2 separate regions of the Homo sapiens genome follow, and region 2 is linked to region 1. A link means that fine-mapping ties the variant in region 1 to the expression of a gene that starts in the linked region. Tissue or cell type: skeletal muscle. Region 1 holds a variant in brackets; the other region holds the start of a gene. All regions are shown on one strand. Distances are from middle to middle.

The links. PIP is the estimated chance that this variant, and not a neighbour inherited with it, causes the effect.
Region 2: it holds the start of SPTBN1-AS2, and the variant in region 1 is fine-mapped to the expression of SPTBN1-AS2 in skeletal muscle (GTEx, PIP 0.94).

What each region holds. Positions count from the first base shown.
Region 1 is chr2:54,465,021-54,471,148 of GRCh38, forward strand. All of the region lies in intron 1 of SPTBN1 (spectrin beta, non-erythrocytic 1), which reads left to right. Among named protein-coding and RNA genes, the nearest start is that of SPTBN1, 12 kb to the left of the region's middle. The variant T/C (reference allele first, on the strand shown) is at 3,780.
Region 2 is chr2:54,677,310-54,683,437 of GRCh38, forward strand. It overlaps SPTBN1-AS2 (SPTBN1 antisense RNA 2), which reads right to left and starts at 2,736. Exons shown (of 3, transcript NR_186176.1): 1 at 2,515-2,736. LOC105374653 (a long non-coding RNA gene) reads left to right here. Exons shown (of 3, transcript XR_940104.2): 2 at 4,247-4,446.

The DNA.
Region 1 (6,128 bases):
GCAATCAACACTTTAAAAATTCTAATTTTTAAAAAGGAAAGAAAAAAGTAAATCTGTCCAATTGTAGATCATTATTAAGAAATAGTTTTAAATCCAGCGATTGTTATATCTGTCCTTCTTTGCAGTTTTCTAAGAGCAATGATACAGTGTGTAAGTTAGCATCTTAAGGGTATAGGTGTGAGATAAATTAGTGTATTCAAATGTATTAATTCTCTACACTAACCTAGGCAGCTTGAAAAGAGCAGAGGACCAGGGTTCTTTGGTATTTCCAGTCTCCACACTTGAGTGCAGAGCAGTGGAATTCCATGACGTGCATGTTCTCACTCGTGGAAACCTAAACACTGCTACTGGAGCTAGTTTGTAACCATTAGACCATCAGGTTTCAGTGGAATTGGTCAGAAATGAAGGTAAAATTCCAAGTGAACATTTTAAAATAAAAATCACTTCAGATTTAGATTTACTTTCAGTGAATGGTATCTCAGCATCTGGGAATATTGTAGGCTAAGATTGAGAGGAACTAATTTTAATATTCTTCGTTTTTTGTATGAAAAGAAATTCCTGTGCAATGTTATATTTTTGTATATATACATATATGATGCATACATATCATGTTTATCTCATATATATATATATATATATATATATATATCTCACACATGGGAGAGAGAGGTGTGTGTTTGATTGAGTAATCTCTACCACGAAGGGAGGCACATATTTTAAAACATTTTAAATGGGGAATTTTATAGAGACAGTATTTTGAAAAGGAGTCCCATGAATGAGTCAAGTTGTCCTTAGCCAGTGGAGGAAATGTTTGGGAGGGAATAGTACTTTCTATTTTATGGTCCAAGTCTCTAAGTGTGTTGGTACTTTGTGAAATGTAGCTTATAAAAATTAATGAATTTCCATTAATTTTGTATTTTTTCTGCCATCAGCTTTAACTGAGTGGTTGTTTGAAGAAGCTTTCAGGATTAATTGTGCTTTGACATATAAAAATAAGATGTTATCAAGATTGCTTTAAAACTGACCCTTGTTTATAGGAGTCATACGTCCATTCTTAAGAAACTCTCAACTGTGACAGTAAACATCTGAGTGATTTTTAGAACCATTTTAATATCTCTGCTCTAGAATCGAGAATGCCCTGTTAGTTCTGATTTTTAATATACAAATTTGAAGCCACTAGTTAGGCAGTAAAATATGTATTAGAACATAACTATAGATTTTTACCCAATAGATCAATTAGTATGAAATTTAGGATGATATATAAGTACAACAGAATTTATTCCTTTGAGGTATGTATTTTCAAAGTGTAATTTGTGTAATTAAGTATGTTTATTCTTCGAGACCATCCTGGCTAACACGGTGAAACCCCGTCTCTACTAAAAATACAAAAAATTAGCCGGGCGTGGTAGCGGGCGCCTGTAGTCCCAGCTACTCGGGAGGCTGAGGCAGGAGAATGGCGTGAACCCGGGAGGCGAAGCTTGCAGTGAGCCGAGATCGCGCCACTGCACTCCAGCCTGGGCGACAGAGCGAGACTCCGTCTCAAAAAAAAAAAAAAAAAAAAAAAAAAAAAAAAAAAAAAAAAAAAAAGTATGTTTATTCTTAGAAAGTTCATGAGCCTATTAACATTGGTTATCTTGGGTAATGGAATTGCAGAAGATTTCATCTCTGTATATTTTTTTCTCCATATTTTTTAAGTTTTAGGAAATAACAAATTCTTGTTCTTTATCAAAAATATCCTAACACTTCTGACCAAACCTCATTTTAGCTGGATACAAACTAATCAAATAATTTACCAGCTAAATATACTTTCTGCTGTTCAATTTTTTTCTACCAAACTTACGGAAAAGCAGTATTAATAATGAAGATATAAAGAACACTGAAATTTTTGAAAGATCTTTTCATTCCTTGTTTAAATGTTCATTTTTGTTACAGCCTTGGCAGTTCATTACTTATGCAGAGTGTGGGAAAAGCTCTAAGAACTGGCCGAGAGAGCGCCTGACAGAAACATTGTCCAGGAGGAATCAGCCACTAATGGCCACTGCCTTTGGCTCTCGGTGAAGTTTCGTTTCCCTACAGTACTCTTGGGTGGCTGTTTCAGGGATACATTTTGTTCTAGTGTGTTTGCCTCAAGGCCAAATATAAATGTTGAAGGGCTGTACATTTTTCTGGAATGTTCTTCACCAGCTGTAAAGTCTTGGGCTGGGATAGGGATAGGGGATTTTTTTGGGGGTGGGGGGGCTTTTTTCTCTTTATCTTATTTACTTGAATGGGAAGGAAAACTTAGATTCTTCCTTAAAACAATGTTATTTATTTTGATCTGTGATGTTTAAACATTTTCCACGGCATTTTGAAACCTGTAAACATAGGAGTACTTTGTTGTTGCTGTTGTTGGAGACAAAGTCTTGCTCTTATCCCCCAGGCTGGAGTGCGATGGCGCGATCTCGGCTCACTGCAACCTCCGCCTCCCAGGTTCAAGCGATTCTCCTGCCTCAGCCTCCCGAGTAGCTGGCGCCTGCCACCATGCCCAGCTAATTTTTGTATTTTTAGTAGAGACGGGTTTCACCATGTTGGCCAGACTGGTCTCGAACTCCTGACCTCAAGTGATCCACCCTCCTTGGCCTCCCAAAATTCTGGGATTACAGGCGTGAGCCACCGCGCCTGGCCAGGAGTGTTTTTATAGTGATTACAATAGTTTTAAAAATTAAAATAGTCTTTGTATTTTTACCACCTTAGAATCCCTGATTTTTTTTTTTAAATTTCTGCTAATACACATAGTATATGTGGTTTTTTGAATGGCTTATGAAGACTATATACCATCATAAAGGCATAAGTTAGTATAAAATCATCATAACAAAATACAAAAGTATTTTTAAGATATCTTTTTATTACTGAAATAATAGATGTTTTAGATCATATGGAAACTAAAGATGAATACAAAGAAGAAAATTAAAATCACTAGATACTATGTGACCCCGGAAACATACAGTTAATATTTTAGTGTTTCTCGGCCAGGTGCGGTGGCTCACGCCTCTAATGCCAGCACTTTGGGAGGCCGAGGCGGGCAGATCATGAGGTCAGGAGTTTGAGACGAGCCTGGCCAACATAGTGAAACTTTGTCTCTACTAAAAATGCAAAAATTGGCTGGGTGTGGTGGTGGGCTTCTCTAGTCCCAGCTACTTGGGAGGCTGAGGCAGGAGAATCACTTGAACCCAGGAGGTGGAGGTTGCAGTGAGCTGAGACCGCACCATTGCGCTCCAGCCTGGGTGACAGAGTGAGACTCAGTCTCAAAAAAAATAAAATAAAAAAATAAAAAATAAAAAAATAAAAAAATATGTGTGTATATATATTTATTTATTTATTTTAGTGTTTCTCTTTTAAGCCTTTTTTTTCTGTGCATGTTTCTTCATCTCACACATACATATTAAGGGCCAATCCTCCAATCTTAAACTGAAGATGTAGAGTTTTGACAGTCTCTATAATGACATGATGATGTTCAGCACTCTTGCAGCTTATGCATGTTGCATGGCAAAACATAAAATCTAATGACTGGTCTATAGTTAAAGCTGTAGCATGAACACTATCTGTTGCCCTGAGCTGTTTTAGGGGTGGGATGTTAAAGAAAAATGGAAAGGAAGAAAGAATTCAAAAATTTGTTTATTATAGCTGTTTCTCTTTTATGAATAATGTCTTTTTACAATGGAAAAATACCAGAAATTAAATTCTCATTAGATAATGTGCTTTCTGTTTTGTTCTGAAGGGAATTCCCATCACAGTTGCAT[T/C]AATTCCCCTGAGAGACATCTCCATATGCTTCGGACAACATCTGATTTTACTTTTGTGTTCTGATTTCAGAGTCTTTGAAATACCTATCCCATAATGTGTCGCAGTGGAATGGATGTGGTTATTATAATCTTGGTTTTAAGTGTAATAAATTTTACTGGGCTGGGTTTGGTTGTAACTGATGAAAGCATATACTAGAGCTCAGCTTTCTTGGGGTCTTTGTATTAGCTGGATTCTTTACAATTCTATCTTGGGATTTAGGATCTGTTTCAAGAAGAAAAAGCGTTATTTCTATTTGATTATGCAAGCCAGTTCTTTAAGCCTTTAGGACATCAGATGGATGGAGGTGACTTGCTGGCCTTTGTTGCCTTTAACTCTAGTATTCGGCTTCTTTCTGAGGAAGGTGCCAAAACGGCTTCCGTATCTGCTGAAGGAAAAGAGGGAGTGGGAAGAGGGGAGAAATATTTCATTGGAAGATAAAAAAAGCTCTTTCCAGCAATTTCCTTTAGAAACTTGGGGGTTGCTGTTAGTCTCATTTGGGTAATGGGCCCCAAGGAAAAGTGACAAATGGCCTTCTTCTGGGGTTTAAACACTAAAGGTCAGTGTTGGCCCTTTTCACAGTTAAGAGGGAAAAATCTGAGCTGGGCTGGGTGGACTTTCTCCAACTAAGGGATTCTTCTGAAACTCCTAACCTGATGGGAATCATTTTGTTTGCAGGTGGCCAAAGCCCATCAAGGGAAATGCTTGATGGTTACTGTGCCTGAGCTGCCTGAAGCCTGGTGTAGGAGTCTCAACTTGATCTTGAGGCAGCTGCAAATGTTAGGTCTTGACACTTGGGATGGCAACAAGACCAGGCAGTGCCCAGAGTGGTCCCAGCGGCCTAGGTTAGAGGAGGGTAGGGGGCTGGAATGTGGCCTTAGCCAGTCCTCTGAGCAGATGAGAATACCTGTCACTATTTCAGGAGATGAGTTGTGGTCAGAGATATCAGTCAGGTGACTTCTCTGAGAGGGGCCTGGTCCTTCTCACAGCAAGATTGACAAGTCTGTGCTGCCAGTTGTCCCTAAATACCCAATTTATCTCCTGGGGTGGAGTTGGGGAAGTGCCTCTAGCCTGGAGCAAAGAGATCTGCCTGCCATTTCGGAAGGAAAGAAACCAGCACACATCCTGTCTTTCATTCTCTGTTTCAAAGGTAGGTTTTTGTCTGTTTGCTTGTTTTTAAATCAACACCCAGGGCTAAAGGAAATCCCGAGTTTCCCTGATAATCAGGATGATTTCTTATTTTGAAAGGCCTATTTTGCCTTCGAAGTGTGTGTTTCTGACATAGGTTTCATCCTAGTTCTAGAAATCTTGCTTAATTCATAAAAGGTAAAAGTTTAATTAGAGAGAAGGCTGATGTATCGTCTTGTTTCAAAGGGAGACTATTCTTGTCTGTCATTTGAATTTTTTATATATATTTTTTCCGGCTGTGAAGAAATATTTTATTGGTACATGTGTACATGCATTTTTTATTCTTAATTATAGTATGTATTTTCACTGGACTACACTCTTGTTAAAGGAAACTTTGTTCACGTGAAATAAACCTATCTTTAGTGAGTCATACTTGAGAACTGCTTCTCAGTCTCCTCAACTTTTAAAGTCAGTGGTATTTCATGTAAAGAGTGTATCGGTAGCTGGCCTATCTCTGGAATGTTGTGCAGCTGTGCAGAGCGTGAGTCTCAAATGTGCTAATTAAATATGTTTTTTAGCAAGAATGGAATGTAGCAGCATTTGAATGGCTTCAAAAAACATTCCATTTTGTTTCTGAAGAGGGCTTTTTTCGTTTTTGCCAAATATTAAAAATTAGAGAGTACACTGACTTTTAGAGGATGTATTGCTATGTTAAATTGTTCTGTTCACCAGAACAGGGTGGCATGTGCCTGTAATCCTAGCTACTTGAGAGGCTGACGTGGGAGGATCTCTTGAGCCCAGGGCTTCAAGACTAGCCTGGGCAGAGTAGAAAGAACCTGTCTCAAACCCCACACTGTTCTTTTCGCAGAGTTAATGGGGCTCATTAAATACTGAGATTATCCTTTAGAACAATCTTGTCCAACCTACAGCCTTTGAATGTGGCCCAGCACAAATTTGTAAACTTTCTTAAAACATTATGAGATATTTTTTGTGATATTTATAGCTCATTAGCTATCATTAGTGTTTTACTTTATGTATAGCCCAAGACACTTCTTCTTCCAGTGTGGCCCAGGGAAGCCAAAAGATTAGACACCCCTGCTTTAGAATGTACTCAATTAATAATCTTCAAAATGTAGGGATTAGGTGGGGTGGCTCATGCCTGTAATCCCAGCACTTTTGGAGGC
Region 2 (6,128 bases), 210 kb after region 1:
CAGGAACTGATGGGCTGCAGCTGAGATAGGTCAGATTTTCACTCTAGCCCCCTGAACTGGCCACAGGGCCCCTTCGTTCCCTGACTTCCATCATTGCTCTTTCCTGTGATGTCTGACCTCCCCTGTGTCACTGCATCTGACTCTTGCTGCCTCCTCAGCACCTGCGGCCCCATCTCCTCCAAGTTCTGAACTGCACAGGCATCTTCTGAGGTACAGCCATGTTTGGGTGCCCAGCCGGCTCTTCCTGCAGGTCTTCCTGCTCTCCTGATGTCCCTCAGCTCACAACCTCTCTTTTCTAGCAGAGCATAGAAAGACAGGAGCTGACTTCTGGATGCCTGGTCATCATTTCCTTCTTTAGTTCCATTTTACAAGCCCAGGTGCTGTATGAAAAACAGGGCATGCTAACCCTGTCTTCCATCCACTAGGGCGGAGCTGACGGTTAAAACAAGGCTCTTTCCCATGCCAGCAATTAGACCTCCATTTCTCAGAAGAGGAAAGAGGGGAAGCGTGAACAGACAGAAGGGCTCATTTTCTGTTTGTCAAAGGAATAAATGGATTAAGGATCCTTGCATTTCAAGATGCATTTCAAGATTTCAGAGATGGAGTCTTGATAAGACAGTGAGAACTGACTGAGAGGGAGCTGCACCCAATCACGGGGCCACGCACCCAGGGACAGTTGCACCTATATGGATTGTTTCCCAGCCAAATGATGTTCTGACCATTAACTCAGGCATCTGGGATTCCCCAAAGAAACAGATGAGTAGCATCACTTGGGGGACTTTATTTTTAAAAATAAAAATTCAGTTCCTTAAATAGGCATTTGGTGACCTCATGTTTTTTTAGTGAAACATGTTGGTAAGAGATGCAATATTTTGAACAGGAAAGACAGTATGATAAAAGCATTCTTGGGCCAGGTGTGGTAGCTCACACCTGTAATCCCAACAGTTTGGGAGGCCAAGGCGGACAGACCACTTGAGGTCAGCAGTTCAAGACCAGCCTGGCCAAAATGGCACAACACCATCTCTACTTAAAAAAAAAATTAGCTAGGCCTGGTGGTGCACGCCTGTAATACCAGCTACTTGGGTGGCTGAGGCACGAGAATCACTTGAACTTGGGAGGTGGAGGTTGCAGTGAGCTGAGATCATGCCCATGTACTCCTGCCTGGGCAACAGAGAGAGACTCTGTCTCAAAAAAAAAAAAAGCATTCTTCCTTTTTTTTTTAACTCTAACAACCCACTGGCCCACATGCCTCAAATCCTACATAGTTAAACATCACAAGTACCTATTCTGCATACAATTTTTACTTACATATGCATCATAAACATTTTGCTGTGTTTCTACAAGACTTTGTGATGCTTATTTCAAGGACTATTGGTAGTTTTCCACAAGTTGATGCAGCATCAGGCATTAAAATGCTCCCCAGATGCTGAGCATTTAGCAATAACACCATTCTCCACCAAAGAGGCTTGTGTTCCCAAAATTACAGCTCTTGGTTCTTTTTGAGAGCAGTTTTCTGGGGGCATAAACTGCCCCCTGGTATGGCTACTGCACAGACCATATTCCCCTTTAATCACGTGCCTTGGTGCAGGGTACGCATCTACTAACCACTTTCCCCTTGTGGAAATGTTCTCCCAGGGGAGTCATTCTCCTGCCCAGCCTCAGAGAGAGCCTTGATCTCAGCCGCTCTGACAGCTTCAGTCACTTTACATTTCAGGAAACTGAATATAGGTTCTAATCTCTTTGCTCTCTAAAAGCTTCTGGGGTCCTAATGCAAATTTTATCACCCCTAGTTTAACACACTGTAAGCCCACATCAATAATTTTCAAACACAAGCACACAAATAATTTTTATCTTACCAAACACCCTCCCAAGCTTCTTGGCAATTGCCAGGTCAGAAGCTAAGGACACGTTTACAGATTTTTGCTAAATATTCCTATTACTCCTTTCCAAATTACTTTCCAAACAGTGTATCCATTTAGTTACTAGCTATAAACAAAGGTACAGTCAGTCCTCACTTAAGGTTGTCAATATGTTCTTGCAATCTGAAAGTAAGTAACACCAATTTTACCACAAGCAAATTAATATTCCTATGGTTTATTTCTAGTCACAAACACATCAAAATTCTAAATAAAAACCAAAGGCCGGGCGCGGTGGCTCATGACTGTTATCCCAGCACTTTGGGAGGCCGAGGCGAGTGGATCATAAGGTCAGGAGTTCAAGACCAGCCTGACCAACATGGTGAAACCCCGTCTCTACTAAAAATACAAAAATTAGCCGGGCATGGTGGCGCATGCCTGTAGTCCCAGCTACTCAGGAGGCTGAAGCAGGAGAAACACTAGAACCTGGGAGGCAGAGGTTGCAGTGAGCCAAGATTGCACCACTGCACTCCAGCCTGGGCAACAGAGTGAGACTCCGTCTCAAAAAAAAAAAACACTTCTGATATTAACCACTGAAATAAATATGAGCTATACATACATTTAAGAAAGATAAATAAAAGCAAGTAAGATAACTTACTCAATAATAACAGTTCTCTAGGTTGCCGGAGTCTCCAGTCTCCGGTTGCTGTAGCTCATTCCAGCAGCTCAGGGCTTAAAGTAAGAACCAGCCCTGAACAGGACACTGTCACATCGCAGGGCACACTCACACACACCCCACACTCACACCAGGACCATGTAGACATGCCGGTGAACTGAACATGCACCTCTTTGAGGGGTGGGAGAAAACCAGAGCATCCAGAGCAAAACCCCTGTGGACGTGGGGAGAGCATGCAAACCACACAGACAGTGGCCCTGGCAGAGAATCAATTTTTTTCTCATCATTAAAAAAAAAAAAAAAAAGTTGAATGAAATGACATTATCTGAGGAACTGTTCTCGTTGTTGTGCTACAGAAACAATTGTTTTTGTTTTTAGTAACTATCATATGGCACCTCAAGCTGTGAGTTTCTTTGACTGCTAGCTAGGGTCAACTTTTTCTCCTGTTTTTGTCATCTTTCTTTTTTCTCTTTCTTTCTTTCTTTCTTTCTTTCTTTCTTTCTTTCTTTCTTTCTTTCTTTCTTTCTTTCCTTCCTTCCTTTCTTCCTTCCTTCCTTCCTTTCTTTCTTTTTCTTCTTTCTTCTTGCTTTTTTTTTTCCTTTTTGTTGAGATGGGGTCTTATCTGTCACCCAACCTGGGGTATAGTGGCATGATCACGGCTCACTGCAGCCTCGACCTCCCAGGCTCAATCGATCCTCCTGAGAGCTGGGACTACAGGGATGTGTCACCACTTTCTTTTTGAGTGAATTGAATTGTTCATTCATATCTGATTTACTGAGGGTTCTGAATCACAAGCCACAAAAACCAACTCTGGCTAATTTAGCAGAAAAGGAACTTATTAAGGCTCCCAGAATCTCCAGGAGGACAAGGGCACCAGGCTTAGGGCTTATACAGCCAGGAAAAATGTCCAAAGTCCAGCCTAGGGCAGGCTCCTGGAACTCGTCACTGGACTCTGACACTGCCAGGTGCCCACCATGACACCATACTGTGCGCAAACCCTGCTGTGGGAATTGCTGTCTTTGACAGCAACACGCTGCTGCAGTGACAGCTGTCCCTGCCACTGCCCTCACAGAACAGATTCTGCCAGGCTCCCCTCTGCACATGACCAGCCTCTAATTCAAAATCATGCAGGTGTACAATTGACAGATACTGGCCATGGATCTGTGCCCTTGCTGCAAGTGCAGCTGGGAAAAGACCTCATATTCTGCAGAAGGAAGGTTCTGCCCCTTGAGGTTACAGATTCTGCAAACACAGGAACAGCGTTTAAAAAGTAGCTGGCTGTGTGAATTTCCCTTTGCTGCTATACCAAATTACCACAAACTTAGTGGCTTCAAACAACATAAATTTATTATCTTACAGTTCTTCCATAAGTAAGAAGTCTGACACAAAAACTCACTGCATTAAAATCAAGGTGTTGGCAGGGCTCTTTTCCTTTTGGGATGCTCTAGAGGAAATTTCAATTCCTTGCTGTTTGCAACATTTAGAAGCTGCCCACATTCCTTGGCTCATGACCCCTTCCCCATATTCAAAGCCAGCAATAGTGATCAAGTCTTTCTCACACTGCATCACTGTTGCCATCCTCTGCCTCCTTCATCTACTTTCAAGGACCCTTGTGATTATATTGGGCCCACCTGTGTAATCCAGGATACTCTCCCTGATATGGTTTGCCTCTGTGTCCCCACTCAAATCTCGTTTTGATTTGTAATCCGCACAGGTCGAGGGAGGGAGACCGTTGGACCATGGGGGCGGTTTCTCCCATGCTGTGGTCATTGAGTTCTCAGGAAATCTGATGGTTTTGTAAGTGTTTGGAAGTTCCTCCTTGCTCCACTCTCCTGCTGACTTGTGAAAAATGTGCCTGCTTCCCCTTCCACCATGACTGTAAGTTTCCTGAGGCCTCACCAGCCATGCAGAACTGTAAGTCAATTAAACCTCTTTCCTTTATAAATAACCCAGTCTCGAGTAGCATCTTTATAGCAGTGTGAAAGCAGACTAATACAATCCCTATTTTAAGGTCAGCTGATTAGCAACTTTAATCCCCCTTTGCCATGTAATGTTAAACATATTTGTAGTTTCTGTGGATTAGGATGTGGACATCTTTGGGAGACCATTATTCTGCCTACCACAGTTGCCAAAAACAAAAAAACAATGAAGCTATCCACTGCAACATCCTTAGTCTGCTTATTTATTGGCATCACTATGATTTGCTTATAAATTGAAATGTTTTCTCCAGATTTTTACCTTTTATCAATTACACCAAATGAAATATTTCCCTCAGTCTGCTGTTTTGTTTTTGTATGAAATTTATGTTTCAGTATTAAGGTCTGTTCATTTCCTTGTGGTTTTATTTCTTCAAAACTGAGGACATGAATCTTCTTTCACAGATCTGATAACACATTTATTTTGTGCTTTTTAATACCATGTTTAAATTTAAATAAATTCTTCTGAAATTTGTTTTGATGTCTTTTATAAGGGGTACCTCTACCAATTGTTTTCCCTGATCTCTAGCCGGTTATCCTAATACTATTTACCTAATACTATTTAGTAAACAATCTCCATTTGACCTCTTTTCCTTTTTTTTTTTTTTTTTTTTGAGATGGAGTCTCGCTCTGTCGCCCAGGTTGGAGTGCAATGGCATGATCTCAGCTCACTGCAAGCTCCGCCTCCCAAGTTCAAACGATTCTTCTGTCTCAGCCTCCTGAGTAACTGCGACTATAGGTGCACACCACCACACCCAACTAATTTTTGTATTTTTAGTAGAGATGGGGTTTCACCATTTTGGCCAGGCTGGTCTCGAACTCCTGACCTCAGGTGATCCACCTGCCTCGGCCTCCCAAAGTGCTGGGATTACAGCCATGAGCCACTGCGCCTGGCCCTGTTTTCCTATATTAAAATATTAATAACTGATTTTCATTGAGGATCTAATATTTACTAAACACCAGGATTGGTACAGTTAGCATTATTTTGTCTCTTAACAAAAATACAAGGTAAACTCATGTCTATTTTGTTCCCATTGAACCCCCTGTACCTAGCGCACAGAGTACCCAAACCTAATCCACAGCAGGCACTCAATAGGCATGTATTGAATGAATAAACAGCTAAAGTAAATTTGTATTTGAATCAGTCCTTGTTGATTTCACTAATTCACTCTATCATCCTCTTCTGTATTTGGGTCCCATTTCTAGTTTCTTAACGTTTTTCTATTTTTTTTCCACTAGCACCACACATTATATTATTGCCATTTTTTAACTCCAAGGGTTTTTAGCTGTTGTTTTTCAAAGTTTTATTTTGTTTACATAGAATTCAGTCCAGCATAAATATCTGCATTCAGATGTAGGTGCTGGTGCCAGGGGGGATGGGATGGGATCGGTGGTAGCGGGGCGTATGTTTGGTAGAGTTTGTAAACTGGGTGGACAGAGCTTTTGATTCTGAAGATTGCGATGGTTACTATTGTGAAAGAGAATCTTGTGAAAAGTCCACTGAGTGATGCAGCTCTTGATAAGTTCCTTATCATTGACCATTCAAAATGTAATTCATTTGGACTTTGCTGTCTTATACCTTACTGTGCAAGTAGATATAATCTTTAAACTTTCATTTCT